Homo sapiens: one gene and its partners. The protein of the gene in region 4 purifies or fractionates together with the protein of the main gene of each other region. This does not show direct contact. Each region holds a gene or a part of one and is shown on either strand. Other genes may lie near its edges.

Evidence for each region.
Region 1: the proteins of FANCD2OS (region 4) and RAB3GAP2 purify together in Homo sapiens (co-immunoprecipitation; one large-scale study listed by IntAct). This does not show direct contact.
Region 2: the proteins of FANCD2OS (region 4) and ZDHHC13 purify together in Homo sapiens (co-immunoprecipitation; one large-scale study listed by IntAct). This does not show direct contact.
Region 3: the proteins of FANCD2OS (region 4) and CNOT6L purify together in Homo sapiens (affinity purification with mass spectrometry; one large-scale study listed by BioGRID and IntAct). This does not show direct contact.
Region 5: the proteins of FANCD2OS (region 4) and MINK1 purify together in Homo sapiens (affinity purification with mass spectrometry; one large-scale study listed by BioGRID and IntAct). This does not show direct contact.

The regions. Positions count from the first base shown.
Region 1 is NC_000001.11:220,269,357-220,274,212, forward strand, and holds the start of RAB3GAP2 (rab3 GTPase-activating protein non-catalytic subunit), read right to left. Parts: upstream 3,098-4,856; 5' UTR 2,982-3,097; coding exon 2,867-2,981; intron 1-2,866. UniProt on the Homo sapiens protein: Regulatory subunit of the Rab3 GTPase-activating (Rab3GAP) complex composed of RAB3GAP1 and RAB3GAP2, which has GTPase-activating protein (GAP) activity towards various Rab3 subfamily members (RAB3A, RAB3B, RAB3C and RAB3D), RAB5A and RAB43, and guanine nucleotide exchange factor (GEF) activity towards RAB18.
Region 2 is NC_000011.10:19,169,026-19,173,213, reverse strand, and holds part of ZDHHC13 (palmitoyltransferase ZDHHC13), read right to left. Parts: intron 2,804-4,188; coding exon 2,646-2,803; intron 492-2,645; coding exon 394-491; intron 1-393. UniProt on the Homo sapiens protein: Palmitoyltransferase that could catalyze the addition of palmitate onto various protein substrates. Palmitoyltransferase for HTT and GAD2. May play a role in Mg(2+) transport.
Region 3 is NC_000004.12:77,712,379-77,715,807, forward strand, and holds the end of CNOT6L (CCR4-NOT transcription complex subunit 6-like), read right to left. Parts: 3' UTR 1,009-3,429; downstream 1-1,008. UniProt on the Homo sapiens protein: Has 3'-5' poly(A) exoribonuclease activity for synthetic poly(A) RNA substrate.
Region 4 is NC_000003.12:10,105,338-10,110,214, forward strand, and holds the start of FANCD2OS (FANCD2 opposite strand protein), read right to left. Parts: upstream 2,919-4,877; 5' UTR 2,678-2,918; intron 1,201-2,677; exon of another isoform or gene 1,123-1,200; coding exon of another isoform or gene 1,104-1,122; intron 1-1,103.
Region 5 is NC_000017.11:4,888,353-4,892,540, reverse strand, and holds part of MINK1 (misshapen-like kinase 1), read right to left. Parts: intron 2,895-4,188; coding exon 2,778-2,894; intron 2,320-2,777; coding exon of another isoform or gene 2,233-2,319; intron 2,025-2,232; coding exon 1,806-2,024; intron 1,591-1,805; coding exon 1,417-1,590; intron 1,086-1,416; coding exon 825-1,085; intron 393-824; coding exon 307-392; intron 140-306; coding exon 29-139; intron 1-28. UniProt on the Homo sapiens protein: Serine/threonine kinase which acts as a negative regulator of Ras-related Rap2-mediated signal transduction to control neuronal structure and AMPA receptor trafficking.

The DNA of each region.
Region 1 (4,856 bases), on a different chromosome or scaffold from region 4:
AGGGCCTTATACACCATTTAAGAACTTTGGATTTTACGTTAAGTGCAATCAAAAACCATTGAGTGTTATTAAAAGGGCAATGTTAGGCTGGGTGTGGTGGCTCATGACTGTAATCCCAGCACTTTGGGAGGCCAAGGCAGGTGGATCGCAAGGTCAGGAGTTCAAGACCAGCCTGGCCAACATAGTGAAACCCCATCTCTACTAAAAATACAAACATTAGCCGGGCATGGTGGCGCATGCCTGTAGTCCCAGCTACTCAGGAGGCTGAGGCAGAAGAATTACTTGAACCCAGGAGGTGGAGGTTGTAGTAAGCTGAGATCATGCCACTGCACTCCAGCTTGGGCAACAGAGTGAGACTTCATCTCAAAAAAAAAGGCAATGTTGTGATCTAAATTATGCCTTAAAAGCTCACTGTAACTACTGTTGAGAATTATTACAGGAAACCAAGAGCAAAAGCAGGAAGAATTGCTAGAAGAAGACACATATCATATCATAGCCCAGGTTGAGAAAAGATGGTGGCCTGGACCAGGAGAGTGGTAGAAGGATAAAGAAAATCTGTTCCTTTTTTCTACATTCCCTATCTACAATCCTGCATCTGCTATCCTTCACAGCCAAGCTCCTTGAAATAGTATATTTCACTTTTTAACCCCTTATCCTATAACTATGCTTTCTGCCTCCACTATCCTACTGAAACTGTCCTAAGGTCCAAGTTACCTCCACCTTCTCAAAACCAATAAGCATTTTTCTATCCTTTTCTTACCTGACCCCTGCTGCATTTGCAAAACTGCTGACCATTCCTCACCCTCATCAAGTTCTCGCCTTCCTCAGCTCCGAGGGCCTTACTCTCACATGATTTTCCTCTTTCTTTTACTCCTTCTCAGTCTTCTTCCCAGTAACCTCTACTTGACTTTTAAACACCAGTGCTCCTCTAAGCTTACAGCTTTAGTACTCAGTGCATTTCACAACATACATAATCCTTGAGACTGAACTGACACTTTTTGCTGTTAGCTCCCCAATTAACATCTCTGGCCCAGTACTCCCTACTGTTTAGACTATCTATATCTGGTGTTCAACCAGATGTCCTTACTTGGACATACCATAAACATTTAAAATGCAAAAGGTTGAAAATCTGTATCCTTCATTCTCTTATTACATATAGTTGCCCAAACCACAAGCCAAAGACTTCCTAAACTCCCCCTCACTTACTAGTTACAATGCCCATCACCAGACCTTCACAAGGTCCTGCAGATTCTAACTCCTTAACGTCTTTCTAATCTAGTCCTTCATCTTCATCCTACTAAGGTTCTTAATTCAAGCTCACATAATTTCTTGCTTGGATTACTGGAAGAGCTTCCCAATCCATTTCCCTTCTTCCAATCTCTCCTCCACTTTGCTACCAGAGCACATTACAGGTCTTCAACAAATGTTGTTGATTACATTAAGTACAAATCTGACAATGTCATTTCTCTACTTAAACTTTCAGAGAAACGCCACAATTTTCACAAGGCCTCTCATGGTCTAGCTCCTTATTACTACTACTGCCTCATTGCCCCAACTCTTCCTCTCCCATCCTCCTCTCCAGCCATTCAGCTTTTCTTAGTTCTCTAAATACCATGCCATTTCAGGCCTCCCTTCCTCTGCACATGCTATTACTGCTCCTTTACTCCTCTAACTAGTACTTCAAAGGTAGGCTTAAGTATCACCACTTCAAGAAAATGCCTCATGTATATCTCAGTCACACTGAATGGAAGTTAATGATTTGTCTGTAAACCAGAAGTTCCTACAGCAGGGTCCACCAACCTTATTTGGTTTGTAGCACCAATGACTGGCACAAAGTATGCAATCATTCACAGATGGGTTCGATTTGATATCTTCTAAATTTTCTAAAAAAGGGAGAGGAGCTTAGTGGGCTTTATATCACCATTCCGGTATAGCACAAAGTGAGAGCGCTGTACTACAAAGCCAAATGTGCTTCAGGTTGGAAATGCAAAAATAAAATAAAATAAAATAAAATAAAATAAAACACAAGGCACACCCTTTCAAAATGAAATGTACGAAATTCTGAAAGCCTATATAGTATCTAATAAACCAGCCTTGGAACTTTATACTACTTGGGGAAAGGCTTATTAAACACTTTGATGATAAAAATAGGTGGAAGGCTTCAATAAAGCAAATTAACCTTTCTTGGCTATGTCACTGTAATTTTAGTTCCTAATGTAGATTCTCGTTCACTTCCTGACAGGTTATTTTCCTTCTTTGAGAGAGTCTTACCTCAAGAGTCACTCATTTGTCAGCCATTTGTTCTCAAAATCTGAATGGGGGAAATGCAGATGAAAGAAGGGAGAGTGTGGGGGGATGATCAACACTTTCGGAATGGGAGGTAGCAGAAGGCCACAGTCTCCGGGATGGAAGAGAGTGGGAGCTGGGGCAATACCAGAGTGGAGCGCTGACATGTGGCAAGGAACGGGGAGGATGCGATCACGGAGCAGGCAACATGAAACAGGGAACGACCCCAGGCTGAAGATGGGAGACGGAGAAGATACTCAGAGAGAAAGCTAGGAATGTGTGGGGGTGGGGGGAGGGAGGGAGAAAGCGGTGATAGGCAGAGGCGAGAGGAAACAAGACGCAGTTTTTAGCCAGGGGTCAGAGGGCCTAAGGAGAAAAGCTGGGTCGAGAGGAAGACAACACAAATGGGGCTTCAGGACGAGGTGGGCAGGGTGTCATCCCGGAGCGGAGGGGAGGCACGGGGAGAACTGGGGGTCCAGAGGGCAGAGGCAGGAGGCGCAGAGCGAGTAGGAGACTCGAACCCGTGAGCAGAGGCCGCGGGTGACGAGGGAAGGAAGGGCGAGGCCAGAGAGGCACTTACTGGGGTCCCTCCGCAAGGCGCCGCTGAGGATCTCCTCCCGCAGGTGAGGAAAGAGGAAGTCCCGGGCGGCCTGGAGGTCCTGGAAGTAGCAGAACTGGACAATGGAGCAGGCCATGGCTCCAGGGAACCCCACTACGGCACTCACCTTACCTCACCACGCCCTGCCCCCTCCACCCCACTGCGGCCGCCACCGAGCCCCAATAGCTCTAGCCAAGCAGAAGGCGGAGAAACCAAACCGGAAGCTGTCACTGACACGGGTCCGCTGTCTCCGAGTACTGCGCAGGCGCAGGCTGGCCCAGGCGCCTAGGGCGCGGGGGCCCGGGTCACGTGACTACGGCGCCGCCGCTGCAGGTGGAGCCAAAGTCGACGTGGAGGCTTGGGGCAGATTTTTCAGTCCCAGTTGTGTGTCTACGCCGAGGCATGAACCCTTTCATTCATTCTGGCTTTTAGCCAGAGGTGTTCTAATTGGACTTGTCCGCGCAGCCCTTTGACTTATTCAGTCTTATTGGTCCCCTACTATTGGCACGATCCTGATGTTTCACAGAAACTAATTCGTTTTAAACTAGTGGCAGGCCAGTGGGGGACCGTATCCTGCAAGAGTCGGATTTTGAAAAGATTAATTGCTCTTCCGGAGATTAGCCCCGTCAAGGCTGGCTTTAAATGCTCCTACTATAGATTCCCATAGTACTACGCAAGCCCAATATAGTACGTGTTATAGTGTATTATACACTTTTGTTTTCATTATTCATTTGGTTTTTCATTCATGCATTCATCCATCCATTCAACAAATATTTGTTAGTCTTTTAAATGCCAGCCACGCAGGGTGCTGAGCATTAGAGAACAAAAGAGAAGAAGTACCTTTTCCCAGAAAGCTGGAATTCTAGTGACTGATACAGGCAGTAAGCAATTAATTACAGTATTTCCCTTTAATCCAAGGGGATATGTTTTAAGATCCCCAGTGGATGACTCAAACCATGGATAGTACTGAAACCTATGTATGTGTATTATGTTTTTACCTATACATATATATGATAAAGTTAAATTTATAAATTAGGCACAGTGAAAGATTAACAATAACTAATAATTAAATTGAATAATTATGTGGAAAATGAACCCATGGATAAAGGGGGGACTACTGTACTTAACTATTTAACTGAAATTGTGATCATGCTAGTAAGTGCTTCATAAATATTTGCTGAAGAAATAAATGGAATGCATACATAAAGTAAATAGAATAACTTGTTTCTTTGACAAAGCACTATTTTTGAAAGTACTTTACATTGTTCATTTGGATAGTCACAAATGCCATCTAAAAATAGTGTGTCTTATCCCATTTTTAAAATAAAGAAATTGAGCTGTCTCTGAGCAGACTTTAAGTTATTTTTCCAAAAAATAAAAACAAAAAAAATTATTTTAATGTGAGCACAAAGGCCTGTAGGCACTTACACATTTCCTAAAGGAAACCTAAAGAGGCCATCCACTTTGTATGAAAAAAGGGCACAGGAACAAATGAAAGGCAAGTGGATGGGGTCCAGAGCATTCATTTCTGTCAGGCCCGTGGACATACACACTTAGTCCTAATAATATAACAACTATAATTTAGTGCCCAGGTTCCTACTCCATTATTTCCTACTTCTAGAGTAGGATGATTTTCACAAAATAGGATAGGCAATTTCTATGTTATCAGGTTAACAGGAATCAGTTCTTCACCTATAAAAGGCAGTTGAATCAGATGTGCTGTAAGGTCCCTTTAAGCATCAGGGACCTATACTTCTGTAATCAAAGCTTTCAGAAAAAGCAAGCTGCCAGTGCTCCCTTCTTCCATCTGAAGAAATGCAGTGTTTCCTCAGATCATCACTAACTAGAATAATCCAGCCCTGATAAGATTATTCCCTAAAATCCAGCACCAATCCCAAACTAAACCAAAATTTAAATTTAGATTCTTAGTGTTACTGGACGAATAACAAACACATGACACTTTCTGGAAGGA
Region 2 (4,188 bases), on a different chromosome or scaffold from region 4:
GGCAAAGCACACAAGTGAACGCTCTCTACAGAGCACCCTGTGGCTGGCTCTCTCAGCCATACACTTAATTATCTCACATCAACTCCACGCCAGCAACAAACAACCTTGTGACCATGTGGCTTGACTGGAGAGATTCCCCACCTTGGCAAAACTTCAAAGTCACTTACTATTTGTGCTGTGTCCAGTAAACTAACTCTCGAATTCTTACCACCGTGGGGCTCACGACTTTACCACTCACCCCATCACTAAAGCTTCTCTAAGAAAAGGGGGGTCAACTGTACTAGATGGCAAATTACAGAACAGCAGCATGGCCATGGGTAGTGGCACCAGCTTAGGAAACCAGTGACTAGGGATCTTCCACAGGACTCAGCATCCAAAACAGGTCTCGCTTACTTGTATGGTGTCTTCCTGAGGGACAACGTCTGTTTCATATGCTTGCTCTGCTTCTGCAGGCTGATTCTCTCATGGGAGGTCAGGCCCAGAAAGGCAATCTGAAAAAGAAGGGTGGAAGGTTGCACACATTCAGTGTGCAACTTTTAGATAAATAAAACAATATAAGATCAGTATCAGTGCAATTATCTCAATTTGTGTGTTCTCCTTAGTATCTCCTTGAAAAGGGACAAAGAAAAAGTTAATCAGAAGTAAAGAACATTTAATTCCAAAAACATGGGGAAGACTGAGAATTAAGGTAACTTAAAAATTCTTAAATCATTAAAAACCATAACTACTCACAGAGTTATCTCATTTAAACCTCAAATTCCTTATCTGTAAAGCAGCTCATCATACCACTCTCATCATATTATTTTAAGGATTTGAGATAGTCTATTTAAAATACCTAACTGCGGCAGGGCACGGTGGCTCACGCCTGTAATCCCAGCACTTTGGCAGGCCGAGGCGGGTGGATCACGAGGTCAGGAGTTCGAGAGCAGCCTGGCCAACGTGGTGAAACCCCGTCTCCACTAAAAATACAAAAATTAGCTGGGCGTAGTGGTGGGCACCTGTAATCCCAGCTACTTGGGAGGCTGAGGCAGGAGAATCACTTGACACGGGAAGGCGGAGGTTGCAGTGAGCCGAGATCCCGCCACTGCACTCCAGCATGGGTGAAAGAGCGAAACTCTGTCTCAAAAAATAAATAAATAAATAAGTAAATAAAATCAAATACCTAATGCAGAGGATTAGAGAGATGAAGTAACTGATTCAAAGCCACACAGCTTAGAGTGGGAGAGCTGGGACTGACTCCTTGGTCAGTGTGAGAATAAAGCCATGCTCCTAACCAACAACCTAGACACTCATCTTGACTTGCTACAGTCAAAGCCACGACTACCCAGAGCGCTCAGGAAATGAACGTTTCCGAAGAACTGGATTGTTTTGTTCATTAAGAAAACAGCTTTGTTCTGAATTCTTCCTTTTGAAAATTATCTGAAACTTTGAGTCCATTTTTTGCCTTATTGACCTTTTTCTAAAAAATTAAGGATATTATCATCTCATATACTTGTACTTATTCTAAGATTCCAGAAAAAAAGAAAGATAATTAGAAACAATGTCTCAAAGCATTATAAATACTAGGTATTATAAATGATAATACTAATAATCACAGATGCTAGTATCTATTCTTGCTGCTGGAGTCTATTGAAGTCAGAGTGATAGGAGAGTGAGAGGAATGTTCGGAAACCTCAGTTTAGTCAATATTATTAACTCAGTTTCATCCCTAAACATTTTCTTTTTTCTCTTTCTTTCTTTTTCCCTCCCTTCCTCCTTCTCTTCTTGTTATTATTATCATTATTATTATTTTGAGATTGATTACTTTCCCATAAAAGTGGAATATACTTTGCTTTGGTTGAGTAATGCTCTAATTATCTGAGGTCTTACAGTAATTGATTCAGACTGATGACCACCTGCTGCCCATTCCACATGGGCAGGACACAGCAATAATGAGAATTAGGTTAGGCTCATAGGGGATGGAAGCCAGCAGGGAAGGGACTAAAGCTTTGGAGAAAGCTGAAGGTGACTACTGCCCTGGAGCTTGAACTTTCTAATGGCCATGGCCTTCTCTGAAAATGTAATTACTATGACCACTGGTTAGTGATGTATTTTTCATTTCTTACCACTCTCATCCATTTAAACACTGCATAGTAATAAGGGTAACAAACAGCGCTGGAAAAACTGAGGGAAAACAATCATCTGACATTTGCATGATGGTTTACAGTTTATACTATGCTTACACACAACATATAATTTAACTGTACAATGGAAAAAGCCCTTGAATGGGACTGGCAGAAGACCTAAGTTTCCAGTTCTGATTTTGCCACACACTGGGTGACCTTGAGCAATTCAATTTACCTTTCTGTACTTCTATCTGTAAAATAAAGAGGTCAGATTAGGTAACTCCTAGGTCATACTCTAATAATTTATTATGCTAACCTTTAAACCATCTTGTGGTTTAATGTAGTAGACAGGCGTTATTATCCTCATTTTACAGACAAAATACCTGAAATTCAAGTGTGGTTAAATGACATGGCTAGACCCACAGAGTCAGTGACAGAGGTAAAAACAGAATGTGCATCTTCTGATTTTAAATTCAAGGCTGTCTCACTACAAGTTTTAGAAATTTTACTCAAAGCCATTATAAGAAGAGAAATAAATACCTGAAAGAGTTGATTTAATAATAAAAATGTTGACCATGAGAAATGGAAAGTTGCTAGCATCAAGATATATAAAACCCAAGGGGAACAGGCCACAATCTGATTGAGGTAAGTCCATAATCCATCTTCTTTGAATGTTGTGGCACAATGACTGGACAAATCTGTGAATTCACCAAAAAAAAAAAAAAAAAAAAAAGGCAATAAACTACTTATCAGTCTCCAAGAAGATAAAATCACTGCAGTTCTATATAGGGAGAAGAGAAAGTATGGCACAGATCATGATTCAATTTTAGGATTTCATTTTCCACATGACAGTTCAAAAACTAAAGATGACAAAATGGTGGCTCAATGTTAATTGAGGCTATGATAACACTGTATAAGTAGTTAACAGTGAAGGAATAAAGAAAAAGGGTCCGTAAAATCTTTACTAAAATCAGCATTCAGCATAAGATATACTAGCCTGAAGTTAATTATTTGTTTAGAACACTCCCTACCTTATTCATGTTTATAGCAACTATGGGTCTATTACAGGACTGAATATAAACTCTTATTAAGCATTCAGATGAACAGGCCATTGCTGTGGGCACAAGATATCCCACAAGCACCTAGATATCATCAGAATACAATCTAATAGCATGCAGGGAGCTGGGCATGGGTATACTTCTGCACTGACACCATAACTAAATCTGCAGAGGAAGAAAGGCCAGATGAAGGGACTCACAAGACAGATACACCTGGGAAAAGAATATAGAGCAAGATTCAGATGGTCACAGCTCAGTTTCTCCCCAGGTGTGCCAATTAAAGAACTTTACTATGGCCTTTCATATCAACCTCCTAACCCATGTAGCTAGGAGCAGCAGTAAGGAGAAATACACACAGGAAGCAGCAGAAACAAGGGAACGGATCTTCAAGGTTATGTAAATCCAATGACTTTTACAGGCACCCTGCCCATGCATAAAGGGTGAATTATTTTTAAAAGATAATTCTGTCGATTTGCACCTTGAGGTTTCATAAATGCCTCTGACAATTTGATAAACAGTTTTGGACATTTTCCCAATGCTGCTCTGAAGAACTCCAGGGACAGGAAGAAAATGAGTCTATGACTTTCCTGTCAACTGTCCATTTAAATCCTAAAAATCTACTTTTCTTTTCTCTTTAAGTCTCTGATTCCCAACCATCTTTCATGAATATATGCCAGAAGCATTCTAAGAGCAATCATCACAGAGTAGCAATCAAGGTTCAAGTTAAGGCAAATTACACTCTCTCTAGAGCATCTCATTAGGATGGCAAAGAAAGATGCATCCCATGCACCTGATATCACAAAAAAGAATATAATTTCCAACAGTAGGTGGAGAAAACAGCTGTTGATTGGGAAAGAATATCTATTTTCTTTCAGTTTATGGATTTCTACTGCTCCCTTCTGGGAATTCTTTTGATAATACAGCATGATCTCACACTGAAGTTTTCAGAATACTGGTTTTCAGATTTAATATCAAAGATACAACAGCAAGTTGTCACGTACATTATCTTATGCAATGTAACACTT
Region 3 (3,429 bases), on a different chromosome or scaffold from region 4:
AGGGTCAGTGACAGCCTTCTCACACTGGATCCTTGGTAAAAACAAGTCAATAGGCACTGAACTGTCAATGTTGACAATCTGTTCCAAAATAATCTACCATTATCTTTTCCAAGCGCTTACTAAGCCGCACAGCTGTTTTCTGTTTCACTAAAAATAATCTGTTCTCTATCACCTTATTTTAAAGTCATTTTTCAGCTGAATATCTGTAAGCACAGTTTGCAGAATTCCTAATTATTTCACTATGTGCCTTCTCTCTCTCTCTTTCCAAGATTCTATGATTTAAGATATCTTTACTTTGACTGAAACACTGGAATATCTTCTGTGTCATAAGGAGTATTTGGAATATGAATTCTTGGAGGATAGGCATTATAAAGATGTCTTTCATCTTAATATGCCCACAGCACCTTGTTCACAGAAGATACCTGAATGTTTGTTGAATGAATTTACTTGAGATCTTAGCAGGTCCAGCTGTTGAGTTTCTTCAATATTGATAACTCAGCAAATCTGTCTGGTGGTTGTCTGTCAGTCAGGATCAACTAAATTAAGCCCTAATAACACAACTTTATTGTATTAACACACTGAGATTTAGCAGTTGTTTATTACGCTACATGCCCAAAGGACAGCAGGGGAGTTCTCTTCAACAAAGTCACTTAAGGATCTGGAATGAGAGGTTTCATCTCAACATATACTTCTATGATCACACAGGCAAGAAAAGGAAATATGGCAAATTAAAGACTGGCCCTTAAAGTTCCACTCAGAAGTGACATATATCCCTTTGCACTGGTTTCTTCGGGCAAAGCAAGTCATATAACTAGCTTCAGAATTTTTTTTAAACAATGTACTTAGTAATGTAGTTTTCACCAGAAAAAAAAATGTAGCATGAATTTGTAATTATGTATTTTGCCCTGAATTATCTTGGCTCCCTACTTCACTTTAGAAGAGACGTATCAACCTAAAAGCAGAGGTTTATACTGCACAAATAAAGAGTCAAAAACCAAGACAAAGGTATGCAGTTGCAAAATGGCCATTTATTGCCTACAGGGGAAGGAAAGGGAGGGAGAGAGGGGAAGTACACAGGTGCAAGGAAACAAGCATATATTTAGCCCTATACATCATGTGTGAGCAGTAACCAATCTCCAAAATGGAAAAAAATATTTTGTTATCTGACATAGTAGTTAAGGTTCTTAAGCACCTCCCTTCTGAGCTGCCACAAGATTTAAAAGGCAGGACTGCTTTTTTTTAGTCAATGTTCACATTAATGAAAAAATACTACCAACCGTGTCCTTTTGCACGCACACTTTGTACAGTGTCTATTGTGAAAAACATCTCAGCTGAGCAGTTTTGGTCAAGATTCAGACCTCATCAACTGTTTAACTGTAATAAATAGAAAAATAAAGCAGCTGGTGATTTTGTCAGAGAGAATGTGTTCAGTAAGAGTAGAACCACTTTCTCCAGGGATGGCAGAGAGTGTTAAATGGTTAAAACACCTACAGAACCAGTCTATTAAACATTAAACACTAGCAAGCTACAATTACATGGCACTTCATTAAATAGTCTAATTTAAAAAAAAATCTTAGATTTTAAACTGATTACTGAAACACAAAAACAAGTTGATTTAGTCCTTGGCTTTTTCTTAGAACAAAAGCAAAGTAAATATACAACCTAAAACAGCAGAATTTGTTTTGGAATAGTATCAATGGAAACTACCAAGTATTCAGGGAAAAAGTTACTAAAACACCTTGCTTGGTTTTACAGTCATGTGCTTTGCTTTGCAACCATTAGAATTAGATAGTTACAAAAACACTTTATAGGTCACAGAATGACTCAAATGTATGCAAAATAATGAATTCTTTAACTTAATGCCAGGTAATGAAAATAAATGAACCTTTCCCTACTCAAAACGATAAATTGAGTGGAAAAGTAGATTGTCCCATGGACAATTAGTTGGCACTTGTTATATAGTTGAAAAAAATCACAACAGAAGATATAAATTAATCGATGGTGAATTTGACCAACACCCTGGCCCTTATAGAGAGAAAAAGTACATACACACTCTCTTTAAAAAAAAAAAAAAAAAAAAAAAAAAAAAAAAAAAAAGCCCTCCATACTTCCCCACTCCAGAGACAACAAAGCCAAAGATGAAACATTCAACCTTCTCAAAATATTCCAAGTAGTTCTATTGAACTCTGTATCTCAGCTTCTCCAAGATGAAAAAGTTGTTTGCATTTGGACAACAACTGTACGAATGCCCATAGTGCACATCTCAGTGCTGCTGGTGTTTAAGAAATTTGTCACTCATAACCCTGAACAATTCCAGATCCAGTGTGCAGTAACACAGCCATCCAAATCCCTCCCCTTGAAAAGTTGGCAGAGCACCGCTCAGGAATTTCACAGGTAAGGGAATATATTTTTAGCAAGTTAAGCACAGAGAAAGGACAGTACAGTTTCTAAGTAAATACAGACCCAGATACTGCATCACTTACTGCATCAAGATTGAAACAAGCAGCAGGATACTAAGTCTGTTTGGTAAGAAGCAAAGCCATTGTTTGACATCAATGCTGAACCAATTTTGTGACTTCAGATAACTACAAACTAAATTAAATTGGTACATATAACAATTGATAGCTTGAAAGACAATACATCAGTGATTTGAAGTTAATACGAAACTGAAATGAGCAAGAAAGGACCACTTCTGAGAGGGTTACCATGATTCTTACGCTTTAGAGTTAAAAGTGACAGACATACAACTGGAAAATTATCTAAATTTTGAGAGATTGTTCTAACAAAAATAACTAGTACTAGGCACCAAACTAGAGCCTCCGAAAGATTCTGAAAGCTGAATGGACCATGCTACCACCATGCCAAAAGAGTCATATCACTTGGCATTTGTATATCCTTTCCATAATGTGATTTGTTTCTGATGACATACTTCTAAAATGCAGTTCAATGCTACTCAGTTTATACAATGTACCATAAAAAAAAATTAACAATTAATAAGCACAAATGTCCTTATGTCATAGGCTTTGAAAGTGAAAACTATTTTACTTAAAAAATATTCTATTACTTCAATGTCATGTCTGTTGAACGAAGAACTCAACATGCTTATTTTCCTTTGGTTCCAGGAAAAACCCAAGTCTAACCAAATGTATGCCACAAGGAACTGCCAACTGGGTTAAAGCTTGGTATTTTCCTGGTTATCACCCTATTTCCTGGTGTAGGACCTGGGGTTTAATAGAGACATTTACATAAAAAAGGTATTTGGTTAAAACAAGAAATATGCATGCTCTTCCTTACCACCTTCCTGGAAAGAACTGCTTTTTTTTCTTTCTTTCTGTGAATCTTGTTCAAGACATCCTGTAGTTTAGATATATGGGCTGCTTCTTTTTTACCCTCAAGCTTTTAGGTGACACTTATAAAGGTGAGCATATC
Region 4 (4,877 bases):
GCTGTGTTGTTAGCTGCTAATGACAGAGTCTTTATCTTCTGAGGTGACAGAAGCTTCTGGGACTTCATGATGAGACCTTATTACTTGAGATTAGAAGAAGCTCAGAAAAGTCATGTCTTAAAAATATTTGTGGCTGGACACAGTGGCTCATGCCTATAATCCCAGCACTTTGGGAGGCTGAGGCGGGCGGATCACTTGAGGTCAGAGTTCCAGAACAGCCTGGCCAACATGGTGAAACCCTGTCTCTACTAAAAATACAAAAATTAGCCGGGCGTGGTGGCGCATGCCTGTAGTCCCAGCTCTGTGGGGAGGCTGAGGTGTGAGAATTGCTTTAACCCAGGAGGCGGAGGTTGCAGTGAGTCAAGATCGCACCACTGCACTCCAGCCTGGGTGAAAGAGCAAGACTCCATCTAAAAAAAAAAAAAAAAAAAAAATTATATATATATATATATATATATATATATATATATATATATATATATATTTTGAGGTTCGCGATGTATGAACCCTGTAGTAGCAGCTTCAGCATCATTTGGAAACTTGCAGAAATGCACATTTTTGGGCCCCACCTCAGACCAACAGGAACAAACTCCACGTGGGACCCAGCAATCTGCATTTATATAAGCCCTCTTGCATTGTCTATTTTGAGAATTTCTTATGCTATTCCTTTCAAACAACTCTAGCTTTCACTATTCATTACTGAGATCATCTCCTGGCCCCAAAGGCCTCTGCATTTTCTAGCACAAGGGAGCAACTTGCAGACCCCTGGGTTATTTATATACCACCTCAGAGGAGCTACACCAGGCTGGGAGAAAACACTTCCAAAGTCCAGTCAAAAAACTGTTAAAGATTTTTGTTTTTCTAGGTGTGGGTGTGGTTTTAAATTTGTTTTTCTGATTTGTTTGTTTTCCATCTATGGAAGACCTACTGGTTCCATAAGACCTTAATTTTCTTTTTCCTTTGAAGATTAAAAAGGGCTGTGAGGATATTGCTAACTGAAAATTTATGCAAGTAAAATTAGAATTTTCCATCATTCTCCTTCAACATTGCCAGTATATAAGAAGTTTTACTAAATTCAGAAGCTAATTTTTTTTAGCACGTACCTATTTTGTTAGTGGGCATAGCAGGTCCCTTTTCTTTCTAGCCAAGTGTATTTCTCTGCCCCTTCTTCTCCCACAGAAGATAGCAGCAGATCTCATCCTATCCAGTAATTGCCCCAGAAATACTGTGAAAATTTTGACACCTTCACCGCCGTTTGTGAGATAGAAAAGTTCGTTTTAAAAAAAGAACTGTTGGCCGGGCACAGTGGCTCACACCTGTAATCCCAGCACTTTGGGAGGCCGAGGTGGGTGGATCACTTGAGGTCAGGAGTTCAAGACCAGCCTGGCCAACAGGGTGAAACCCCGTCTCTACTAAAAATACAAAAATTAGCCAGGCGTGGTGGTGGGTGCCTGTAATCCCGGGTACTCAGGAGGCCGAAGCAGGAGAATCACTTGAATGGAGGCTGCGGTGAGCCGGGATCAAGCCATTGAACTCCAGCTTGGGTGACAGAGGGAGACTCCGTCTCAAAAAAGAAAAAAACGTTGGTGACATTTCAGACCAGAAGACCTGCTCCTGACAATGGTTAGTATAGGGGGATTTGTTGATTTTCTCCAACTAGTATGTTTCTCATGATCTATGTAGGCTCTTTGCAAAGTACTAAGTGTTCAAATATCTGGGCTGCCTTAGAATGAGAAAGGGACACCCAAGGGACAGTTATCTATTCCAAACACCCTGTGAAAGGCTTCTGGTGCTTGATATCTTGACCTTCAGAGCACATATCCAAGAGAGGGACTACTGTGGTACACCACCATGGCAAGGTGGGCGGAGGGTATGAATGCTGTCAAGCATATTTTTAATCCCAGAATATGGGATTTAAAAAAGTATTTAATCCCAGGATCCTTTTCTTTCTTTCTTTCTTTTTTTTTTGAGACAGAGCCTTGCTCTGTCACTCAGTCTGGAGTGCAGTGGCGCGATCTCCGCTCACTGCAAGCTCCGCCTCCCGGGTTCACGCCATTCTCCTGCCTCAGCCTCCCGTAGCTGGGACTACAGGCGCCTGCCACCACGCCCGGCTAATTTTTTTGTATTTTCAGTAGAGACAGGGTTTCACCGTGTTAGCCAGGATGGTCTCGATCTCCTGACCTCGTGATCCGCCCGTCTCGGCCTCCCAAAGTGCTGGGATTACAGGCGTGAGCCACCGGGCCCGGGCCCCCCGGATCCTTTTCTTGCCACATCTTCTAAGAGGAAGTAGAGGTAGAAGTAAAAGTCTTTGTCAAATGTCCAGCCTAGGTCGCGGCGCGGTGGCTCAGGCCTGCAATCACAGCACTTTGGGAGGCCAAGGCGGGCCAATCACTTGAGGTCAGGAGTCAGCCTAAATATTCGGCAGAACCAACATGGGACGAGAGCGCTTCTAAACCTAGGTCCCTGCACCTCTTCGCACAAAGTTTAAAGATGGTTCACCCCATCCCCACCGCCCAGAAGTCACTGTCAACCACTCCAGAAGGGCTTGAACCTACAAAGTCTGCTCAAGCTGCTCAATAGCTCCCAGATATGGAACACCTGATTCTCCTGGCCAAAAAGGTTTCCCCTTCACACCCCACTTCCCATTCCAAGGAACCCCATCTCTTGATTTCCCCACCTGGGAAACAGGGCGTTAGCGCCAAAGTGCAGCTGAGGTCCTGAACTGTAAACGGAGATCCCGAGGGTCTGGAGCTGCCGAGAGTGCGAGAGGCTCCCACTCCCCGCCGGAAGAAGGGGCTTGGGCCTCCTGGGTCCCTATCCGGGGGCGGGGACCAGAAGGTTCTGGCTGAGGCGGACGATGCGGTGGGAACCTGGGCCCAGTCCCACCATCCGGGCCCGGGGCTCACCTGCTGAACTCTGAGGGTCTCACGCTCCAAAGTGGCGGCCGCTGTTCGTGGCGCCTGGCAACCGCCTTTGTGACCCAGGACGGCAGGGCAGCCCGAGCCGCGGCGGGGATGGGGGCTCGAGGCGCCCTACTGGGAGGCGTCAGGGCCACACTCCCCGCCCCCACCTCATTGGAATGCCTTGTCCAGGACTTGGCCTTCAGGAGGGCTGGTCCGAATCCTGTCCCCTCCATTGTCCTCCTCCCTACCGTGCCACACCTGTGTACCTGTGTGCCTTTGATCAAGCCACAGAGGACAGGCGACCCCTACTTCAATGGCCATGGTCAGAGGCCTGCATAAAAGTCCCAGGACCTGTAGTTAGTGTTAAAAGTTAGTCCCAACTCATCACACTCTGCTCAGTGGGTGCTCAGGCAGAGTGACCCAGAGCTCTGTCAGGTTTTGTTGCTCTATTTGAATGATCCCAGTGGCAAAGAAAGAGAATTAATAAATGTTCACCTGTCAAGAGCAGGAGGAAACGCACGTCTTTCCTTGATTTCCTGACAGAAAACCTTTCTCAGCCTTGCGTTAAACCTGAGAGTACCTGTAATCCCAGCTATCTAGGTGGCTGAGATGGGTAGACTGCTTGAGCCCAGGAGTTCAAGACCAGTCTGGGCAACGTAGTGAGATTCCCAGCTCAAAAAGAAAACAAAAAAATCTCAAAAAGAATGATTTTGTCTCATTCTTATAATGCAGAAATACACTTTCGCCATATTAGTGAAGGAGTGATTTGACAACTTTGTAATCATCACTTAAAATAATGACCCTGGATGGCTGAGGGAAGGGAGGAGTCTACCCAGCTGATGTCTGTATTCCCAGTACCTGGCTATTGCCATGTCTGGCAGTGTGCAGTATTTGTGGGAGGAAGTAACTAATGGCCTACTTGGCCTTCCCTTGTACACCCAGAATTGCCCTTGCATTTTACAAACTATAGAACACACACCACAAATAAGACTTGTCACCTTTGTTCTGGTTTTTTGGGTAAAGCTGATGGAGAAAGACTGAGGGTCTGAGAATAGAGTCAGGCAAGATCCTGATTTAGAAGACACACACCCACTGTGTGTACATGTGCACCTTTTGGAAGAAGAGGTAAGTGGAGAAGAGTCTGGAGGGCATGTCGGGTCAGAACATGAAGAGAGAGGCACAGAATAGTGAGACTTGGAAGAGACACAAATGATTTTGAATTACAAAACTTTTTTCCCCAGTTAGTTCATTTTTATTTCCCTCTTTTTTTTTCTTTCTTTTTTTGAGACGGAGTCTCACCGTGTCACCCAGGCTGGAGTGCAGTGGCTTGATCTTGGGTCACTGCAACCTTCACCTCCTGGGTTCAAGCGATTCTCCTGTCTCAGCCTCCCGAGTAGCTGGGATTACAGGCGCGTGCCACCAGGCCCAGCTAATTTTTGTGTTTTTAGTAGAGACGGGGTTTCCCATGTTGGCCAGGCAGGTCTCGAACTCCTGACCTCGTGACCTGTGCACCTCGGCCTCCCAATGTGGTGGGATTACAGGCGTGAGCCACCACACTGGCTTTATTTCCCTCTTGAATAAAAAAGACTTTTTTTTTTGAGATGGAGTCTCACTCTGTCACCCAGACTGGAGTGCAGTGGCGTGATCTCCACTCATTGCAAGCTCTGCCTCCCGGGTTCACACCATTCTCCTGCCTCAGCCTCCTGAGTAGCTGGGACTACAGGCACCAGCCACCACGCCCGGCTAATTTTTTTGTATTTTTAGTAGAGACGGGGTTCACTATGTTGGCGAGGATGGTCTCGAACTCCTGACCTCGTGATCCGCCCGCCTCGGCCTCCCAAAGTGCTGGGATTACAGGCTTGAGCCACCGAGCCCGGCTGACATTTTTATTTTAAAAGAAAACAGTCGTTTTCATTTAGGTTTTAATTGCACAGTGGTTTTTGTTTTGTTTTGTTTTTTAAATGAAAGTCCTCA
Region 5 (4,188 bases), on a different chromosome or scaffold from region 4:
AGAGTGAGTTGGGGGACAACTCTATTACCTAGAGGCGTTGGGCGGGCCAGGGGGCTGAGCAGGGGGCCCTGGAGGCTTTGGGGTGCCCCGCTCTGCCCGCCTTTGCAGATAGATTTGCCAGGCGGAGTTGCTGCGAGGTCTGTGAAGGGAGCACAGGGGTGCCGAGGGGGCGGCGGGGGGGCGCTGAGGTGATGGGGCTGGGGCTTTCCCACCCCCAGGCGGGTAGGCTGGTAAAGTCCCTGTGCCCCCCCTACTCCCTAGGCTGCCCTCAGACCTCACCCAGGCGTTGCCCTACCCAGGCATTACCTGGCACGGACTGCCTGGGCTGGCCGGGACCCTCCGGCCCCACTGGTGTTAAGGGCAGTGGCGATAGATGAGGTCCTCTGAGGCACCTGTGGAGAGAAGTCCACGTGCTGCGAGCTGGCGCTGCGACAGGCACTTCTCAGATGTTTAAGCCTCACCTCTGAGAGGTGAGCTCCCCCACTTTGATGGATGAGAAAACTGAGGTTCAGGGGAGTTAGTGAATACGTCCAGGGTTATGAAGCCGGATGATGGTGGAGCTGCGGTTCTAACTGGCAAAGTCTGCCCCTTAGCGCTCCCAAAACACCCTGGGCGTTTCTCCGTTCCCACGCTCCCCACAGGGATCGATGCCACCCCTCCACGTCGCGTCCTCAGCTGGACGGCTGACCCCGGCAGGGCAGCGCCCTGGCTTTCTCTCGCTTCCCGCCCTGCACTCTTCCTCCATGTGGCCTGCCCCTTCACTGCCCTCCTTCTCTTCATGACTAGCTCTCTGCTTTTCCCTGGGCCTGCAGAACTGTCCTTACCTTGGGTGGGGCCTCGTTATCTGGGCGGACCCAGGCTGGGGGATTCGGGCTGGGGCCAGGTCCTTCAGAGGTGGGGTCTGAATTCTGGCGGATGACAGCTCCTCGGGCACTGGGCGTGGCAGTGGGTGCGGGGATGGCAGGGTCGGGGTCATGGGAGGCTGGGAAGGCAGCCAGGTTTCGGGTGGGCTGGTCCTGCAGGGACTGGGATCGGGGTACAGGTGCTGCATATGGCTTCAGTGGGACCCGGTGTGCCACCAGGCTCTGCAGGGAGAGACCAGGGAGGGTGGGCTGCCTGCTCCATGGCACATCCCCACCTGCGAATTGGGGTCTGGGGTGGGAAAGGACTTTAGCTGCCCCTTCCTCCATTGAAGGACAAGGGGTTCCTTGAGCCTGATGACAGCTAAGTCAGGACAGACACAGGCAGCAAGAAGCAGGTGAGTGAGTCTGTCCACAAAGCCTGTGCTCTGTAATCCTGGCTCACGGCTGAGCAGGTGTGTGTGTGTGTGTGTGTGTGTGCGCGCGTGTGTGTGTACCTGTGCTCTGAACAAAGCTCCCTGTGTCTTCATTAAGACAGGGGTGGGGAGAGACTCACCTTGTGCGGTCCCTCCTGGGGCTCCACCGGCCTCTGCATAGGAGGAGTCTGGGAAAGGGGTCCTGGGGGCCCTGGGGAGGCCTGGGGGATGGGGGGCTCAGGCCCCGTGCTGCCTGGCTTGCTCTTGGCCAAGGGAGAGTTCTGCTGCTTGTTCATCCTTGTTCTCTCTTCTACCTGTGATGTGAAGGGATGTCAAGCAGGCCAGCTCTTGCCTCCCTGTTCTCAAAACTGAGGGTCCCACCTGCCCTAACTACTCCCGCCCTATGCTCTGTGCTGTGTGCTCCTTTCCCCTACTTGGTGCCTGCTACTGTGAACTACTACTTCTTGTGGCTCTCCAGGCCTCAGGCAGTGGGACTGCAGTCTCAGGAGGCAAAGGAGGCAGTGAGTACCTCTCGGGCCCAGGCTGGTTTGTCAGCGGGATTCATGCCCCGACCATAATGGTACAGGGGCTTCCTGTCCCCAGGCAGGAGCTGCTGCTGCTGCTGTTTCTGAAGCTGCTGCTGCTGTTGCTGCTGCTGCAGGGACTTGAGGTAGGCATGCTCCTGCTGCAGCTGCCTCTGGAGACGTTCTGACTGCCGCTGCTCCTCCAGCTGCTTCCGCTTGTATTCCTGGGCCCAAGGGTAGGGAGAGAGGGCTCAGCAGGGTGTGGCCCTGGGAGTTAGAGCAGGCATGCCCTCTCTTTTCTCCAACTGCCTAGAGAGGAGATGTATTCCCTTGATGTCCTGGGTGAATCCCTTCCCTTGAAGTGTTCCCATCCCGTTCCAGCAAAGAAGCTCTGAAAAGCATCTTCCCAGAGGACGCTGAGGGACCCGTTACCAGCAGCAGGGCCTGTTCCTGGAGCAGCTGTTGCTGAAGGATCTCGAGCTGTCGCTGCTCCTCCTCTAGCCTGTGACGAATATATTCCTGGGGGACGGGGTGTGGGGTGGGGGGCAGAGGGCAGGGAAGGAGGAAGAGGCAGAGGAGGGCAGCAGCAGCGAGTTGGAGAAGGAGGAAGGGATCCGCAGGAGAATGAGGGGGTGCAGGGGAAGAGTAAGAGAGAGGTAGGGGAGGGGATGACATGAGCCCCAGGGGGCCATGCGGCACAGATGGGGAAGAAGAGGGCACAGGGAATGAGGGGGGATGAGGAAGGGGTCGGGGAGTCAGGGATGGGGTAAAGAGATGGGAATGAGGCAGGGAAGGAAGAGGGAGGGGGTCAGGGTTGGGGTTGAAGGGTGGGAGAAAACAGAGAGAAAGAGTGAAGCTAGAAAAGATAGGAGGAATCTGGGGGTGGGGGAGAGAAGGGGGAAGGGCACGGGGAGCAGGGGCGGCAGGCAGCAGGAGCGGGAGGGCGGGAGGGCAGGGATGCGGGTGCGGCGCTCTACCTGCTCGCGCTCCGCCTGCCGCCGCTCCTCCTCCCGCCGCAGAGCCTGCATGTCCTCCAGCCGCCGCTGCTGCTCCTTCTCCTGCAGCTTCCGCTGCTCCCGCTCCCGCCGCTGTTGCTGTGGGGAGAGCCAGGTGGTCTTAAGAACCATACCGGACATCGCGTCAGCACTGCCCCTCCATGGACAGGGAGGGGAGCCCTCCTTGCTCACCACGGAGGGTGGTAAGAGAGACCGGCTTCCGCTTGTTTCTGCAACTATACCCATCCCCACCCAAGGGCCCGCGGGGCTGGGCTCGGGTAAACAGCCGGTAGCTGTGACGAGAGAGGCTGTGAGACTGACTGCTGCCTGTGGGGTGGGCTTAGCTAGACAACACCTTCCACTCCCCACACCCCACCAAACAACAAACCAAAGCCGAACTCAAAACAAGCCTCCCCAGCACTCCTAGCCTAAAATCGACCTTTGCCTGAAGTCCATATAGAGCGGGTCGTAGTGATAGCCTTTGGCCACAAGAGGGCACCAGGTGCCCGTGCACAGAAAGCACAGAAAAGAGGGACCTGGCCCACTCCTTGACAAGCACCAGTGCCCAGGTGGTACTTTACTTTCACGGTATTTCTGTGGTGGCTTTCACGAAGTCTACCACCACCACCACCAACAAAAGCACAAACCCTGAGGGACCCTTACACTTGAGGGAACTTGTGCCTACTTCTGCAATGAAGTTGCCAGCAGGCCTTCTCCAGGTAACACCTTGTTAGATAGGACTCTGTGGCTGGGCGCGGTGGCTCACACCTGTAATCCCAGCACTTTGGGAGGCCGAGGCAGGTGGATCACCTGAGGTCGGGAGTTCGAGACCAGCCTGACCAACATGCAGAAACCCTGTCTCTACTGAAAAAAATACAAAATTAGCCGGGCGTGGTGGCGCATTCCTGTAATCCCAGCTCCTCAGGAGGCTGAGGCAGGAGAATCACTTGAACCTGGGAGACGGAGGTTTTGCGGTGAGCCTAGAGTGCGCCACTGCACTCGTCACCCTGGGCAACAAGAGCAAAACTCCATCTCAAAAAAAAAAAAAAAAAAAAGATAGGACTTTGTTACTATACTATCTGAACGCTATATTTATTTTATTTTTTTATTTTTTGGAGACGGAGTCTTGCTCTGTTCCCCAGGCCAGTGGCGTGATCTCAGCTCACTACAACTTCCACCTCCCAGGTTCAAGCGATTCTCCTGCCTCAGCCTCCTAAGTAGCTGGAACTATAGGCGCGTGCACCACCACGCCTGGCTAATTTGTGTATTTTTAGTAGAGATGGGGTTTCACCATATTAGACAGGCTGGTCTCGAACTCCTGATCTCACGATCCGCCCCCATCCTCCGACTCCCAAAGTGCTGGGATTACAGGCGTGAGCCACCTCACCTGGCC